Homo sapiens: one gene and its partners. The protein of the gene in region 1 purifies or fractionates together with the protein of each later gene. This does not show direct contact. Each region holds a gene or a part of one and is shown in the gene's direction. Other genes may lie near its edges.

The links.
Region 2: the proteins of KIDINS220 (region 1) and PACC1 purify together in Homo sapiens (co-immunoprecipitation; one large-scale study listed by IntAct). This does not show direct contact.
Region 3: the proteins of KIDINS220 (region 1) and TMEM95 purify together in Homo sapiens (co-immunoprecipitation; one large-scale study listed by IntAct). This does not show direct contact.
Region 4: the proteins of KIDINS220 (region 1) and ACBD3 purify together in Homo sapiens (pull-down; one large-scale study listed by IntAct). This does not show direct contact.

Annotation. Positions count from the first base shown.
Region 1 is NC_000002.12:8,782,114-8,785,613, reverse strand, and holds part of KIDINS220 (kinase D-interacting substrate of 220 kDa), read left to right. Parts: intron 1-3,500. UniProt on the Homo sapiens protein: Promotes a prolonged MAP-kinase signaling by neurotrophins through activation of a Rap1-dependent mechanism. Provides a docking site for the CRKL-C3G complex, resulting in Rap1-dependent sustained ERK activation.
Region 2 is NC_000001.11:212,363,428-212,366,657, reverse strand, and holds the end of PACC1 (proton-activated chloride channel), read left to right. Parts: intron 1-1,281; coding exon 1,282-1,443; 3' UTR 1,444-2,730; downstream 2,731-3,230. UniProt on the Homo sapiens protein: Chloride channel gated by pH that facilitates the entry of chloride ions into cells upon exposure to extracellular acidic pH. Involved in acidosis-induced cell death by mediating chloride influx and subsequent cell swelling.
Region 3 is NC_000017.11:7,353,910-7,357,719, forward strand, and holds TMEM95 (sperm-egg fusion protein TMEM95 isoform 3 precursor), read left to right. Parts: upstream 1-1,246; 5' UTR 1,247-1,295; coding exon 1,296-1,464; intron 1,465-1,676; coding exon 1,677-1,733; intron 1,734-1,928; coding exon 1,929-2,009; intron 2,010-2,119; coding exon 2,120-2,140; intron 2,141-2,262; coding exon of another isoform or gene 2,263-2,286; coding exon 2,287-2,367; intron 2,368-2,482; coding exon 2,483-2,570; intron 2,571-2,689; coding exon 2,690-2,723; coding exon of another isoform or gene 2,724-2,812; 3' UTR 2,813-2,926; coding exon of another isoform or gene 2,927-3,192; 3' UTR 3,193-3,310; downstream 3,311-3,810. UniProt on the Homo sapiens protein: Sperm protein required for fusion of sperm with the egg membrane during fertilization.
Region 4 is NC_000001.11:226,180,242-226,183,741, reverse strand, and holds part of ACBD3 (Golgi resident protein GCP60), read left to right. Parts: intron 1-3,500. UniProt on the Homo sapiens protein: Involved in the maintenance of Golgi structure by interacting with giantin, affecting protein transport between the endoplasmic reticulum and Golgi. Involved in hormone-induced steroid biosynthesis in testicular Leydig cells.

The DNA of each region.
Region 1 (3,500 bases):
CATTCATTCATTCGTTCATTCAAGACTATAATTTAAGGTAGTTTTAAGTTCACGGTAAAATTTAGAGGGAAGTGCAAAGATATCCCATATACCCACTTCCCCCACACATACACAGCCTCCCCAATTGGCACGATTACCCACCAGAGCAGTACATTTGTTACAATTGATGAACTTAGGCTGACACATCATAATCACCCAGCATCCATAGTTTACAGTAGGGTTCACTCTTGGTGTGGTACATTCTGTGGGCTTGGACAAATGTATAACATGTATCCACCATTATAGTCTTATACAGAGTAGATTTATTGCCCTCAAAATCTTCTGTGCTTCACCTCTTCACACCTGTTCACCCCTCCCTCCACCCTCCTCCCTAACCCCTGGCTACCATTTCTTTTTACTATCGCCATAGTTTTGCCCTTTCCAGAATGTCATATAGTTGAATCATACATGTGTAGTCTTTTCAGATTGGCTTCTTTCACGTAGTCATATGCATTTAAGTGCCCTTCATGTCTTTTCATGACCTGCTAGCTCATTTCTTTTTAGCATGGCTAATGTGCCATTGTCTGGATATATCACAGTTCATTTATACATTTATCTACTGAAGGACATCTTTATTGCTTCCAAGTTTTGGCAAGTATGAATAAAGCTGCTATAAACTTTTGTGGACAGGCTTTTGTGTGAACATAAAGGATTTGAAAACTCCTTTGGGTAAATACCAAGGAGTGTGATTGCTAGATTGTATGATGTTTCGTTTTGTTAGAAACAACCAGACTGTTCTGAGGTGGCTATTTTGCATTCCCACCAGAAATGAATGAGGCTCCTGTTGCTCCACATCACATCCTCACCAGCATTTGGTATTATTGGTGTTCTGGATTTTGGCCATTCTGTTAGGTGTGCAGTGGTATCTTATTGTTTGAATTTGCATTTCCCTGATTACACATGTTGTGGAGCATATTTTCATGTGCTTATTTGCTATCTGTATGTCTTCTTTGGTGAATTGGCTGTGAAGGTCTTGGCTTATTTTTCAGTCAGGTTGTTCATTTTCTTATTGTTGAGTTTTAAGAGTTCTTTGTGTATTTTGGCTAATGGTCCTTTATCAGATAAGCTTTTTGCAAATATTTTGCTCCATTCTTTTGGTTGCTTTTCATTCTCTTGACAGTGTCTTTTGCAGAGCAGACATTTTTGATGAAGTCTAGCTTACTAATTCTTTCTTTCATGGATCTTGCTTTTAGTGTCCTATCTAAAAAGTTAACACCAAACCTACGGTCACCTAGATTTTATCCTCTGTCATTTTCTAGGTGTTTTATACTTTTGCATTTAGGTCTGTGAGCTATTTTGAGTTAATTTTTGTGAAGTGTGAATGTGTCTAGATTCTTTTCTTGCTTGCTTTCTTGCTTCCTTGCTTCTTTTCTTTTTTTTTTTTTGTTTCCAGTTGTTCCAGCACCATTTGTTAAAAACGCTATTTCTTGCATTGTATTGCCTTTGCCGCTTGTCAAAGATCAATTGACTATATTTGTGTAGGTCTGTTTCTGGGCTCTTTCTCTTTGTCTGTTCGTTTGCGCATACCACACTGTTTGATTACTCTAGCTCTATTTTCTTGAAGTTGGGTAGTGTCAGTCCTCCTATTTTGTTCTCCTCCTTCAATACTGTGTTGGCTATTCTGGGTCTTTTTCTCCTCATATGAACTTTTGATTCACCTTGAATAACTTGCTGGGATTTTCATTGAGATTGCGTTAAATCTTTAGGTCAAGTATTGAGTCTTCCTACCCATGAACATGGAATATCTCCTCATTTATTTAGTTCTTCCTTGATTTCTTTCAAGAGTTTTGTGGTTTTTCTCATATAGATCTTATACATATTTTGTTAGATTTATACCTATTTCGTTTTTTGCAGTGTTAATATATATAGTAATTGTGTTCTTAATTTCATGTTTGACGCTGATATATAGGAAAGTGATCAACTTTTGTATTAATCTGAAATCTTGCTATAATTGTTTGTTAGTCCCAGGAGTTTTTTTTCATTGTGGTTCTTTCGGTTTTTCTACATAGAGAGTCAAGTCATCTGTGAACTAAGACAGTTTTCTTTCTTTCTTCCCAGTCTTCATACCTTTTATTTCCTTTTTGTTTGTTTGTTTTATTGCATTAGTTAGGACTTGCAGTACTATGTTGAAAAGGAGTGGTAAGAAAAGGGACAATCTTGCCTCGTTCCTGATCTTAGTAGATGTTTTCATGTTCTCACCATTAAGTATGATGTTAACTACAGATACTCTTTATCAAGTTGAAGAAGTTCCTCTCTATTTCTAGTTTACTGAGAGTTTCTACCATAAATGGTGTTGGATTTTGTCAAATGCTTTTGCTTTATCTAATTATGCAATCATGTGATCTTTCTTCTTTAGCCTGTTTCTTTTTTTTTTTTTGAGACGGAGTTTTACTCTTGTTGCCCAGGCTGGAGTGCAGTGGTGCCATCTCAGCTCACTACAACCTCCACCTTACGGGTTCAAGTGATTCTCCTGCCTCAGCCTCCCAAGTAGGTGAGATTACAGGCATGCAACAGCATGCCCAGCTAATTTTGTATTTTTAGTAGAGACGGAGTTTCACCGTGTTGATCAGGCTGGTCTTGAACTCCTGACCTCAGGTGATCCACCCTCCCTCCTCGGCCTCCCAAAGTGCTGGGATTACAGGCATGAGCCATTGTGCCCAGCCTAGTCTGTTGAAGTGATGGATTACATTAATTGATTTTTGAATGTGGAACCGGCCCTACCTACCTGGCATAAATCTCACTTGATTGTGGTGTATAATTCTTTTTATACATTTTGCATATGATTTTCTAATATTTTGTTGAGGTTTTTTGCATCTATGCTCATGAGATATTTATTGGTTTGTAGTTTGCTTTTCTTGTCAAGACTTCGTCTGCTTTGGGTATTAGGGTGATGCTGACTTCATAGCATGAGTTAGGAAGCATTCCCTTTGCTTCTGTCTTCTGAAAGATCCTATGTAGAGTTGGTATAATTTCTTCTGTAAGTGCTTGGTAGACTTCATTAGTGAACCCTCTGGGCCTGGTGCTTTCTGTTTTGAAAAATTATTATTGATGCAATTTCTTCAATAGATATAGGCCTGTTCTTGTGAATTTTGGCAAATTATGTCTTTGAAAGAACTGGTCTGTTTATCTAAGTTATCAAATTTGTGGGCATAGAGTTGTTTGTAGTATCCCTTTATTATCCTATTTTTGTCCATGAGGTAGGTCTAAAGTGGTAGCCTCTCTTTTATTTGTTGTTTTTCTGAATTTGTGTTTCCTCTTCTTTCATCTTAGTTAGTCCAAGGCTTATTGATTGTGTTTATCTTTTGAACTAACTAGCTTTTGGTTTCATTGTTTTATTTCTGTTTTAGTTTTTATTATTTCTTTTCTTCTGATTACTTTGGATTTAATTTGCTCTTTTTCTAGTTTCCTGAGGTGGAAGCTTAGATTATTAATTTTATTTTATTTTTATTTATTTATTTTTT
Region 2 (3,230 bases), on another chromosome or scaffold:
TCACAGCAGTCAAGTGGTGGTATCACCATTTTCATATGTGAACAATGAAATGCATACTAAGGTCACCCTGCTAAATTGAGCTTAGAAGTATTTTATTTGGGAGGCTGAGGCAGGCGGATCACGAGGTCATAAGATCGAGACCATCCTGGCCAACATGGTGAAACCCCGTCTCTACTAAAAATACAAAAAATTAGCCGGCCGTGGTGGCATGTGCCTGTAGTCTCAGCTACTCGGGAGGCTGAGGCAGGAGAATAGATTGAACCCGGGAGGCGGAGGTTGCAGTGAACTGAGATCGCGCCACTGCACTCCAGCCTGGCGACAGTGAGACTCCATCTCAAAAAAAAAAAAAAAAAAAAAGTATTCTTACCAGGTTGTGGAAGTCAGAAATCCAAGATAAGAACTCTGCCTTAAAGAGTTACAACTCTGCCTTCAAGAGTTAGTGAGAGAACAATCCTATTGTTTTAAATTATTGATTCCAGACCATAAGGAACTGTGAAGGGCATTCATAGGATAAATAGCTCTGCTGAAGTCCAGAAAGGGTTTTAGCTTAGTGGTCAGGGAAAGCTCTGAGACTTTGAAGGATGAGTAAACCTAGACAGGAGGAAAGCATCGTAGATGGGGAAAAGAGCAGAGGACTGGAGGCAGGAATCCTCCTCTGAGTTTGGGAGGAAAGACAGCCATTGGACTAGAAATGAGGAAACACTTGAAACTATGGTAACTATGAGATGGGAACAAGAGGAGCTCACCTTCTTATGGACTGGGTATAGTTTTAGGGAAATTCATCTCAAAGCAAGGTCACTTATTGTTGGATTAGGCCACAAAATTAAATATTGCCTATCTTATTTGTGCAGAGCTTTTTTGAAAAACAGCTTTCTTTCAGAATCACTTTATTATAGGGAGGAGTCAGTATTTTTCTCCTCAAACTGAGCTATGGACATTAAAAGTATAGTCTGAATGAAGTATATAGAGTTATGACAGTTTCAGAACCCAGGTATTTTTCTTATAGTCCCAATAATTTGGGAAGGGCTCTTGATAATAACACTACTAAACATACAAAAAATTAGCCAGGTGTGGTGGCAGGTTCCTGTAATCCCAGCTACTCGGGAGGCTGAGGCAGGAGAATTGCTTGAACCCAGGAAGCGGAGCTTGCACTGAGCCGAGATTGCGCCACGCACACAAGCCTGGGTGACAAGAGCGAAACTCCATCTCAAAAAAAAAAAAAAAAAAAGAATCAAGACTGAAGCAAACCAGTAATCCTGTTTGTTTCTGTTTGCTTCACAGATAGTCACTGCCAATCCTTGGAACACAATTGCTCTTCTCTGTGGCGCCTTCTTGGCATTATTTAAAGCAGCAGAGTTTGCCAAACTGAGTATAAAATGGATGATCAAAATTAGAAAGAGATACCTTAAAAGAAGAGGTCAGGCAACGAGCCACATAAGCTGAAGTCACCTCGCGTTGTTTAGAGAACTGTCCACATCAATGGGAGCTGTCATCACTTCCACTTTGTAAACGGAGCTATCAACAATCCTGTACTCACTTGAAGAAATGGGGCCTTGCTGGGAGGAACAGCATGTAAAACTGGAACTTCTAACCCCGTCCCAAAAGAGGCGGTGTAGAGCCTAATAGAAGAGACTAATGGATAAACCTACAAGTTATTTAAATATTTAAATTATTAATAAACTTTTTAAAGAGCTGGCCAATGACTTTTGAATAGGGTTTGTAGAAGATGCCTTTCTTCCTGTTTGGTTCATTGTATTGTATTAGGTTAAGCTCTACTAGGGTAATGAAGGCTCTACTTTTCACTTTTTAAAAGTGGACAAAAGAGTGTGATTTTCTTTTTCCAAAAATTCCTGAGTATCAAGACGTGCAGGTCATGCTTTGGAGCCTATGCACTGTACACAAAGGCAAAACCCTATGACTTTGGCATCATCTGCCATTGATGTCCAGCCTCTGACATGCTCTTTGATTTGTTAAATGTTAAATGAGACTTTAAGGCTACTAGAAACTAGTAATTAAGTTTCTTAATGGACTGAGTAGCCACCTACTTGTCCGGCTAGAATGTTTGTTGATGTATGAGTTTAGATTAACACTCAAAAGCACTAGGACAGATGTACATAGAAGGTGCCTACTCATTGTATTTTGATGATTTCATTAACAGGTAAATAAAAGTTAATACAAAAGGAACGAGTGTGACAATATGAATATCTGCTCAATCATCGGGCACAATTACTTTCATTTGGTGACTTCCAAGGACAAAAAGGTAGTATGAGTCTGGACTCCCAAGATGGATCTGACTCCCAAGGTATGTTCTAACTGCTTCCAGGGAAGGGTTTGTTAGGCATGGCAACTGATGGCAGGTGTCCAGAAAGAGTGACCTGGTGTCCCCGAGGAAGCTGGGTTAACTCTTTACTGTGTCCACAAAACTACCCATCATATGAGGAAGGGGCATACGCAGTGTGACCCTCAAAAAGCTTTTAGCCTAGCCTTTGACAGAAATGAGTATGCATTAAAAAAAAGTCTATTTTTCACATTAAGGTTCTAAAAATTGTTTCCAGAGTTTTAAATTATTTATGTGCCTGTTGCTTCAAAGAGGACTTGGTAGCATTTCCTAAATTTTGTAATCTGGCTTCCGATAATCCAAAGGGAATAACTCAAATGTATGAATAGGCATTTTAAATGGGAAGAAACTGTTTTTTGGATGAATGATTAAAAGTGAACTGTATAAAGAAATATTCCCTGCCACTTTTCTGCTCCACAGAAGCATGAGAATTCAAGTTTTAGCCTAGGTCTCTTTATAAAATCTTATTTTATTGCAGGGCAAATGCAAAGCCAGGCATAAAAGCTTACATTAACAGTACTGATAAAAAGGGGAGTGAAAAAGGGGGGTGTGTTTTTTTAAAGCATGTCTGACAATATGTCACTTTCTCTTTTTTTTTTTTTCTTTTTTTTCTTTGGAGACAGAGTCTCACTCACTCTGTTGCCAGGCTGGAGTGCAGTGGCGCTATCTCGGCTCATTGCAACCTCTGCCTCCTGGGTTCAGGTGATTCTCCTGCCTCAGCCTCCCAAGTAGCTGGGATTACAAGCATGTGCCACCATGCCTGGCTAATTTTTGTATTTTTAGTAGAGACAGGGTTTCACCATATTGGCCAAGCTGGTCTGGAACTCCTGAGCTCAAGCAATCCACCCGCCTCAGCCCCCCAAAGTGCTGTGATTACAGGCGTGAGCCACTG
Region 3 (3,810 bases), on another chromosome or scaffold:
CTTGATTTGGAGCTCAGTGTTTAAGGGCTTGGAAAAGGGGGGAACATCTCTTTACCCAGACTAGACCTAGCAAAACCCTGGAAGGATATTGAGGTCTGGGGAAAAGGGAGGACTTTGCATTTTCCCAATGCGGTCTCTTGGACCATGGCTTCTACTCCTGAAGCTGGGTGGCCTGGCCTGGCCTGACCAATGAGAGGCCAGAACACTCTGGAACATCGGAAGAGGAGTTCTTTGCTATGTTCCAAGCCATCTACTGAGGGAGGCAGAAAGGCCACAACCCACCCTAGGTTGATGTATGGGAGCTAGGACAGTCCCCATGGCAATGGGGCTGGAGCATCCCTCATCTGGAAGAATCCCATACTGATGGCAGGGCTGGCCAGGGGGAAGAGGGTAGTATCTGTGGGTCCTGGCCTTTCTTCATGTGTGCGTGCATATCAGCCCGTGTGGCTGACTGATGTATAGGTCCCTGGCATCCTGGTTCATATCTGTGTTGCTGACTACAGTGTCTGTGATGTCCGCATGTCCAGGCCTGTTTGGGGTTGCCTAGCGACTCTTCTGGCACAGGGTGTGTCTGTGGTATACCTGTGAGGTGGTTGACAATTAGTAGTTTAATCACAGGGTGTGTGTGTGTGTGTGTGTGTGTGTGTTTATGTGCACGCATGTATATGCATCACCACGTAGCCAGGAGGGGCCTGTTGGGGTTTGAGTCACTGGGATCTTCCTGGTGAGAGGTAAGAGAAGTCACTGGGCTTAGCTGGGCCTCTGAGGCCTGTATGGAACTCTTGGTTGCTGAGGCAACCATGGACCTGTTGCTAGGAGATAGCTGGGGAAGGCCCAAGGCCGCCCAGGGCAGAGAGAGGAGACGAAGAGTTTGGGACAGTGGGGGAGGAGATGGGAAGGGATGGGATTTCTGGGTCCCAGAGCGGGTGGGATACTCACGCACAGCTTCTTCACTGGTGGGGGGTGGGGCACACATTATTTCTCACTGGTCATGATTTACAAGAAGAAAAATAAAACTGCTTTTGGAACCACAAACTTGTGAAGGCTGTTGAGGGCCAGGTTGGGGGTGCTGTCCCCTCACAACAGAAGCCCTGCTTTCTCTGCCCATCGCCTGCTGGAGATGCCTTCTGGACCCCAGTTCCTTGAGCCCCAGCTTTACCCCAGCTGAGGATGGGCAGTGCCATTGTTCATTGTTCTGGAACATTCTAGAACCTCCAGGCAAGGGCTGGAGCCAGGGCTGCAGAGCATTCCTCGGCTCAGCTGGGGCAGCGCCGCCCCATCCCCCAGTGGTCCTCATGTGGAGGCTGGCACTAGGCGGGGTTTTCCTGGCAGCCGCCCAGGCTTGTGTCTTCTGTCGCCTCCCAGCCCACGACTTGTCAGGCCGCCTGGCTCGGCTCTGCAGCCAGATGGAGGCCAGGCAGAAGGAATGTGGGGCCTCCCCAGACTTCTCGGCCTTTGCCTTAGGTAGGACCAGACATCCAGGGATGGGCCCAGCAAGCACTCACCCCCCTACCCCCAGAGGGTGGCATGTGACCTTCCAGCTGTGCCCTCCATCTGTGGCCCTTTCTGGACATGCTGGCCTTTCCCTCTGAGAGAGCTCCATATCTGGGAAAGTCAGGAGAGACCCCAGAACCTGGGCTGATGAGGGAATCGCTGGTCCTTGCCCATCTCCACAGATGAGGTGTCCATGAACAAAGTCACAGAGAAGACTCACAGAGTCCTGAGGGTCATGGGTGAGGTCAAGGGGAAAGAGTGACCTAGGGGCTTGGGAGGATACCAAGGAGAGGGACGGGTGACAGGGGTTGGGGTGGGCAGGGAAGGGTGGAGGGGTAGAGACAGGAGGGCTGATCAGGGAGGGGCTGCGTGAAGAGAGGGGGAACTGGCCCCGTCGAGGCCCAGGGAAACGGAGCTGCTGTCTGCCTCCCCAGAAATCAAAGAGGCTGTCTCCTCACTCCCTTCATATTGGAGTTGGCTTCGAAAGACCAAGCTCCCTGAGTACACCAGGGAAGGTACCGATGCGGGATGGGCCTCAAGGGGAGCCTAGGGTCTTAACCAAAGGAATGTGTGGTGAGCAGCTCATCCATTCACACCCCCACCCCTTCCTTGTCTTTCATTTCAGCTCTCTGTCCCCCCGCCTGCCGTGAGTAGGAAAGGAAAGGGGTAGCAAGGACCTGGGGCCTGCAGGGTGTCAGAGGAGGGCCTGGCAGCTGCAGGAGGAAGCTGGGTACCAGGCAGGGTGGAGGCCCGGCCTCCCCTCCCCAGCGTTGCCTCTGCTGTCTCCTGCAGGGGGCAGCACCACGCTGTACAACTGCTCCACCTGCAAGGGGACGGAGGTGTCCTGCTGGCCCCGAAAGCGCTGCTTCCCAGGTCCTCACGCCCATCTTGGCCCCGCCCCACCTTGCCCAGATCCCTGAGCCCTTGGGCTCCCAAGTCGGTGCGTGTGGGTCCCAGAATCATTCACTGCCTCCTGGGTTCCCTGCAGGAAGTCAGGATCTTTGGGAAGCCAAGATTCTGCTCCTCTCCATCTTCGGAGCTTTCCTGCTTCTGGGTGTTCTGAGCCTCCTGGTGGAGTGAGTTTTGGGATAAAGACAGGAATCCTACCCCGCCCAGTGCCTTCCACCACCCATCCTCCCTCCCTCTGTCCCTCCCAGGCCCCTCCCGTAGGCTTCCCACCCTCGTCTTCCCTCAGGTCCCACCACCTCCAAGCAAAAAGTGGCTTGTGAAGACGCTGAAAACCTCCCAGCCTCCAGCTCTAAGGGGTATGCACTCACAACTTCCACATCCCTTGGAGGGGAACCAGTCAGCCCCTTAGTCCCAGCTCCAAAGACAGTCTCCAGACCCTAAAACCCAGACATCCCTGCTTCTGGTTGGTGAGATAATGAAAAACAAGAAAATCCCCAAAAACCCAGATCCCCCACAATCCCAGTGTCAGATGGCCTCCCGGGAACCCAGGCACCCACAGCTGGAAAGTTCCTCCCCTCCAGCCCTCAACCAATCACATGGCTGTCAACAATGCCAGGAAAATATCTACAGAAGGAAAGAATCCCCTACGCCACTCCCACCACACCCACACCCCCTTCTGCCTGTTCCGGGAAAGCGGGGGCATCTGCCCCAGAAGCTATTCCAGGCCCTCCTATGACTGATGGGGAATCCGGGAATGCATGTTCTGGAAAACTCACCCCACTAGAGTGAGATCACATCAGTGGGTTCGCGGGCATGCCCTCCCTCCATCGTGTTAACAGTTTGAAATCCTGGCCTCCCTCAGAGGCCTCCATCCTGCCAGGCCTAAGTAAAACTTGCTGTTCATGGCCTCTGCCCCTGCCTAGCCTCTGTCTGCAACTGGGGAGGGCAGAGGAAGGATGGGAGACTCTCAGAGTAGCACAGTGCTTCTCAGATGGGGGTGATTTTGCACCCCAGTAGACATTTTGCAACATCTGGAGTCGTTTTGGATTGTTTTAACTGGGGGGACGTGCTACTGGCCTCTGGTGGGTAGAGGCTAGAGATGTTGCTAAACATCCCACAACACACAGGAAAGTCCCCACAGCAAAGAATTATCCCGTCCAAAATGTCAGTGTTTACCAGGAAAGGGAGATAGGAGAAAAAAAAAAAGAAAAGAAGAAAAAGAAGAAGGAGGAGGAGGAGAAGAAGAAGAAGAAGAAGAAGAAGAAGAAGAAGAAGAAGAAGAGGAAGAAGAAGAAGAAAGAAAGAAAAGAAAGAAACAAAATGTCAGAGCATGGTTGAGAAACCCTGGTGTTTTGTCCCCTGCCTATCAGGAGTTTTTGGTTTGGGAATGGAACGTGGGACATGGAA
Region 4 (3,500 bases), on another chromosome or scaffold:
CAGGTACTTTTGTATTTCTAGTAGAGACGGGGTTTCTCCATGCTGGTCTCGAACTGCCGACCTCAGGTGATCTGCCCACCTTGGCCTCCCAAAGTGTTGGGATTATAGGCGTGAGCCACCGTGCCCGGCACCTTTGTTTTAATGTGTGGATTTTTCTGGTGGAACACATGGTGTTTTGTCAGTCTTGCTGGGACTTTTAATCGCTATTCTATGGTTTTATACCAGTATCTCACGAGAATTAGAAATAACATTACATTTTCGGCCGGGTGTGGTAGCTTTTGCCTGTAATCCCAGCACTTTGGGAGGCCGAGGCGGGTGGATCACAAGGTCAGGAGATCGAGACCACCCTGGCTAACACGGTGAAACCTCATCTGTACTAAAAATAAAAAAATAAAAAAATTAGCTGGGCGTGGTGGCAGGCGCCTATAGTCCCAGCTACTTGGGAGGCTGAGGCAGGAGAATCACTTGAACCCTCAAGGCGGAGCTTGCAGTGAGCCAAGATTTCGTCCCTGCCCTCCAGCCTGGGCAACAGAGCAAGACTCCATCTCAAAAAAATAAATAAATAAAGGAAAGAACATTACATTTTCTCTTCCACTGTGGAATAAATACGAATCTTGAAAGCATGGATATATTTTTCCATTGCAAATAGCTTGGGTTGGAAATGACAAGCCCTATTTCTTATTCCATCCTTGTCAGGGTGGTAATAGGCCAGTGACTGAATCAATTACGTCAACTATTCTTAATTTTTTATGACAGTAAAAGTAAAATAGATGAAGATGTGGGTAAATGTAAGTTAGCATTTTACCATCTAAATTTCAGACATTATTGACTTTTCAGTATGGATAGTTTTATATTAGGTTACAACTATAAATGAATAGTACGTTATCTTTTGCTTAGAGTCCAAAAGAGGAGTTAAGGACCCAGTGACAACTGCAGTACAGTGTGGAGGACTGAGGGAGCAGATGCCATTCCAGAGGGGGGAAGGCCAAGAGCCATGAAAGCCATGAGAAGTCAAAGCATGTCTGTTTGCAAAATGGAAAATAGAAAGCAGTTTGATGGAGAGAGCTGGGAAGGTAACTGAGTTCAATTCTTGGAAGGACTTGCATGCCATTGTCATTTTTTTTTTCTGAGACGGAGTCTTGCTATGTCACCCAGGCTGGAATGCAGTGGCATGATCTCCACTCCCTGCAACCTCTGCCTCCTGGGTTCATGTGATTCTCCTGCCTCAGCCTCGTGAGTAGCTGAGCTTACAGGCTTGTGCCACCACACCCAGCTAATTTTTGTATTATTAATAGAGATGGGGTTTCACCATGTTGGCCAGTCTGGTCTTGGACTGACCCCAAATGATCTCCCCGCCTCGGCCTTCCAAAGCGCTGGGATTACAGGCGTGAACCACCGCGCCTGGCCATGTAAGTATTAATAGTTCGGCCTTTTTGTCAGTAAATTAGAAGATGAGGAACCACTGGAGGTTTTTAAAGGGAGGAGCAAAGTTGCTCAATTCTTTTTTTTTTTTTAGACAGTCTGGTTTTGTTATGCAGGCTAGAGGGCAGTAGTGCGATCTTGGCTCACTGCCCCCTATGCCTCCCAGGCTCAAGCCATCCTCCCACCTCATCCTCCTGTGTGACTGGGACCACAGGCACGAGCCACCATGCCCGGCTAATTTTTGTATTTTTTGTAGAGACAGAGGTCTTGCTTTGTTGCCCAGCTGGTCTTTAGCTCCTGAGCTCAAGCGATTCACCCGCCTTGGCCTCTCAAAGTGCTGGGATTACAGGCATGAGCTACCACGCCCGGCCAGAGTTGCCCAGTTCTATTTTAACAATGTTAAGCTAGGTTTTCTTATCTCCATGGGTTAAGGACCCACAGGAATCCAGTGGGTTCATTTTATTATGACCTTTATACTTCTTGGATGGAGTTGACCTGGGGAATTGTATTTTGGTTTTTAGAGTTCTTTGGGGTGGACTTTTCCTTCTCTAATACTTTATTACTGTATTACATTAAGCTGGTAGATTGTTTACATTAATTTAAGATTTCAGAGTAATAATTGTCAATAGTTATTGAGTAGATGTTTACTAAATCTCAGGTACTATGCCAAAAACTGTATGTACATTATTTTGTTTAATCCTCCAAGAGGCCTTCTGTAAGGGTATTAATCCCATTTCTGAGTTAAGGATCCTGCCTCAGGCCCCTCAGTTATTTGGAAGGTAAGTCTTGGACTCATTTTCTTTATGGAATAGTTCTACTAGCATTGCTATTGATTATACCCAATTGTGTTACTGATAGTAGAGTATTATATGTTGGGAGAGAATTATATTAATGATAGCAAACAAATGGACAACTGAAATGGTTCCATTTCCTCTTGTCTTCTTTAAACATAGGCAACTACAAGAGCATTTATAAATGGCTTCCTTAATGTTTTAAAATACTGTACAGCTGTAATTTATTCATTGGAAACATATATAATTAGTGTGCCTCCTGGACTTCAGTGGTCTATCCTCAGATAATTTCAAGTTTGTTACTATGGAACATCTATTAGAGTTCTTTTTCCCTTTTATTATCTTTACCTTTAGACATAAGTATGTAATACTGTAGGAGGATATATAGACCTAAGAGAGACAGATGTAAGACAGAAAAACAATTATAGCCACCAAGTTCATGTTAAATTTGAGCTGAACCAAAACTTTCCTTTGACTGGATTCAGGAATGTGTATGTGTTGTTGTTGTCATTGTTTTTTTTTTTTTTTTTGAGATGGAGTCTCATTCTGTCACCGAGGCTGGAGTGCAATGGCGCGATCTCAGCTCACTGCAGCCTCTGCCTCCTGGGTTCAAGCAATTCTCCTGCCTCAGCCTCCCGAGTAGCTGGGATTACAGGCACATGCCACTACGCCCAGCTAATTTTTGTATTTTTAGTACAGACAGGGTTTCACCATGTTAGTCAGGCTGGTCTCGAGCTCCTGACCTCAGGTAATCCACCTGCCTTGGCCTCCCAAAGTGCTAGAATTACAGGCGTGAGCCACTGTGCCCAGTGTGTATATGTTTTTAATGTAAGTGATTTTAACATTTTCCCGAGGCTTCCCTTTATCACACATGCAGTGCACTAAAGTACACAAATACTAAGTGTGTAGCTTGATGAGTTTTCAGAAAGTGGACAGTGTAGCCAATGCCCAGGAGCAGATGTTTTATCAGTTAACTAATACAAGAGCTACTGTGAATCAGTATTTAGAAAGGTAAGCTCTGGAGTCAACACTCTTTAGGGTGTGTTTTCCTTGCTCTGCCACTTAATTTTGTTAACTTTTTGTGCTTTCCTGTACTCAAAGGGTTGTTTTAGGAATTATAAGAAATTATATATATAAACTCTTAGCAGAATGCCTGGCTATTGGTATTTTTGTGGCTGCTTATGTTGTTGAAAAGGAGGTACTTCTGAGAATTGATTATGGATGTTTTGAGTTAATGGAGGGGAAGTCTTAAAACTTTTACTAAGCAGTTAGTATATGCTAGGCAAT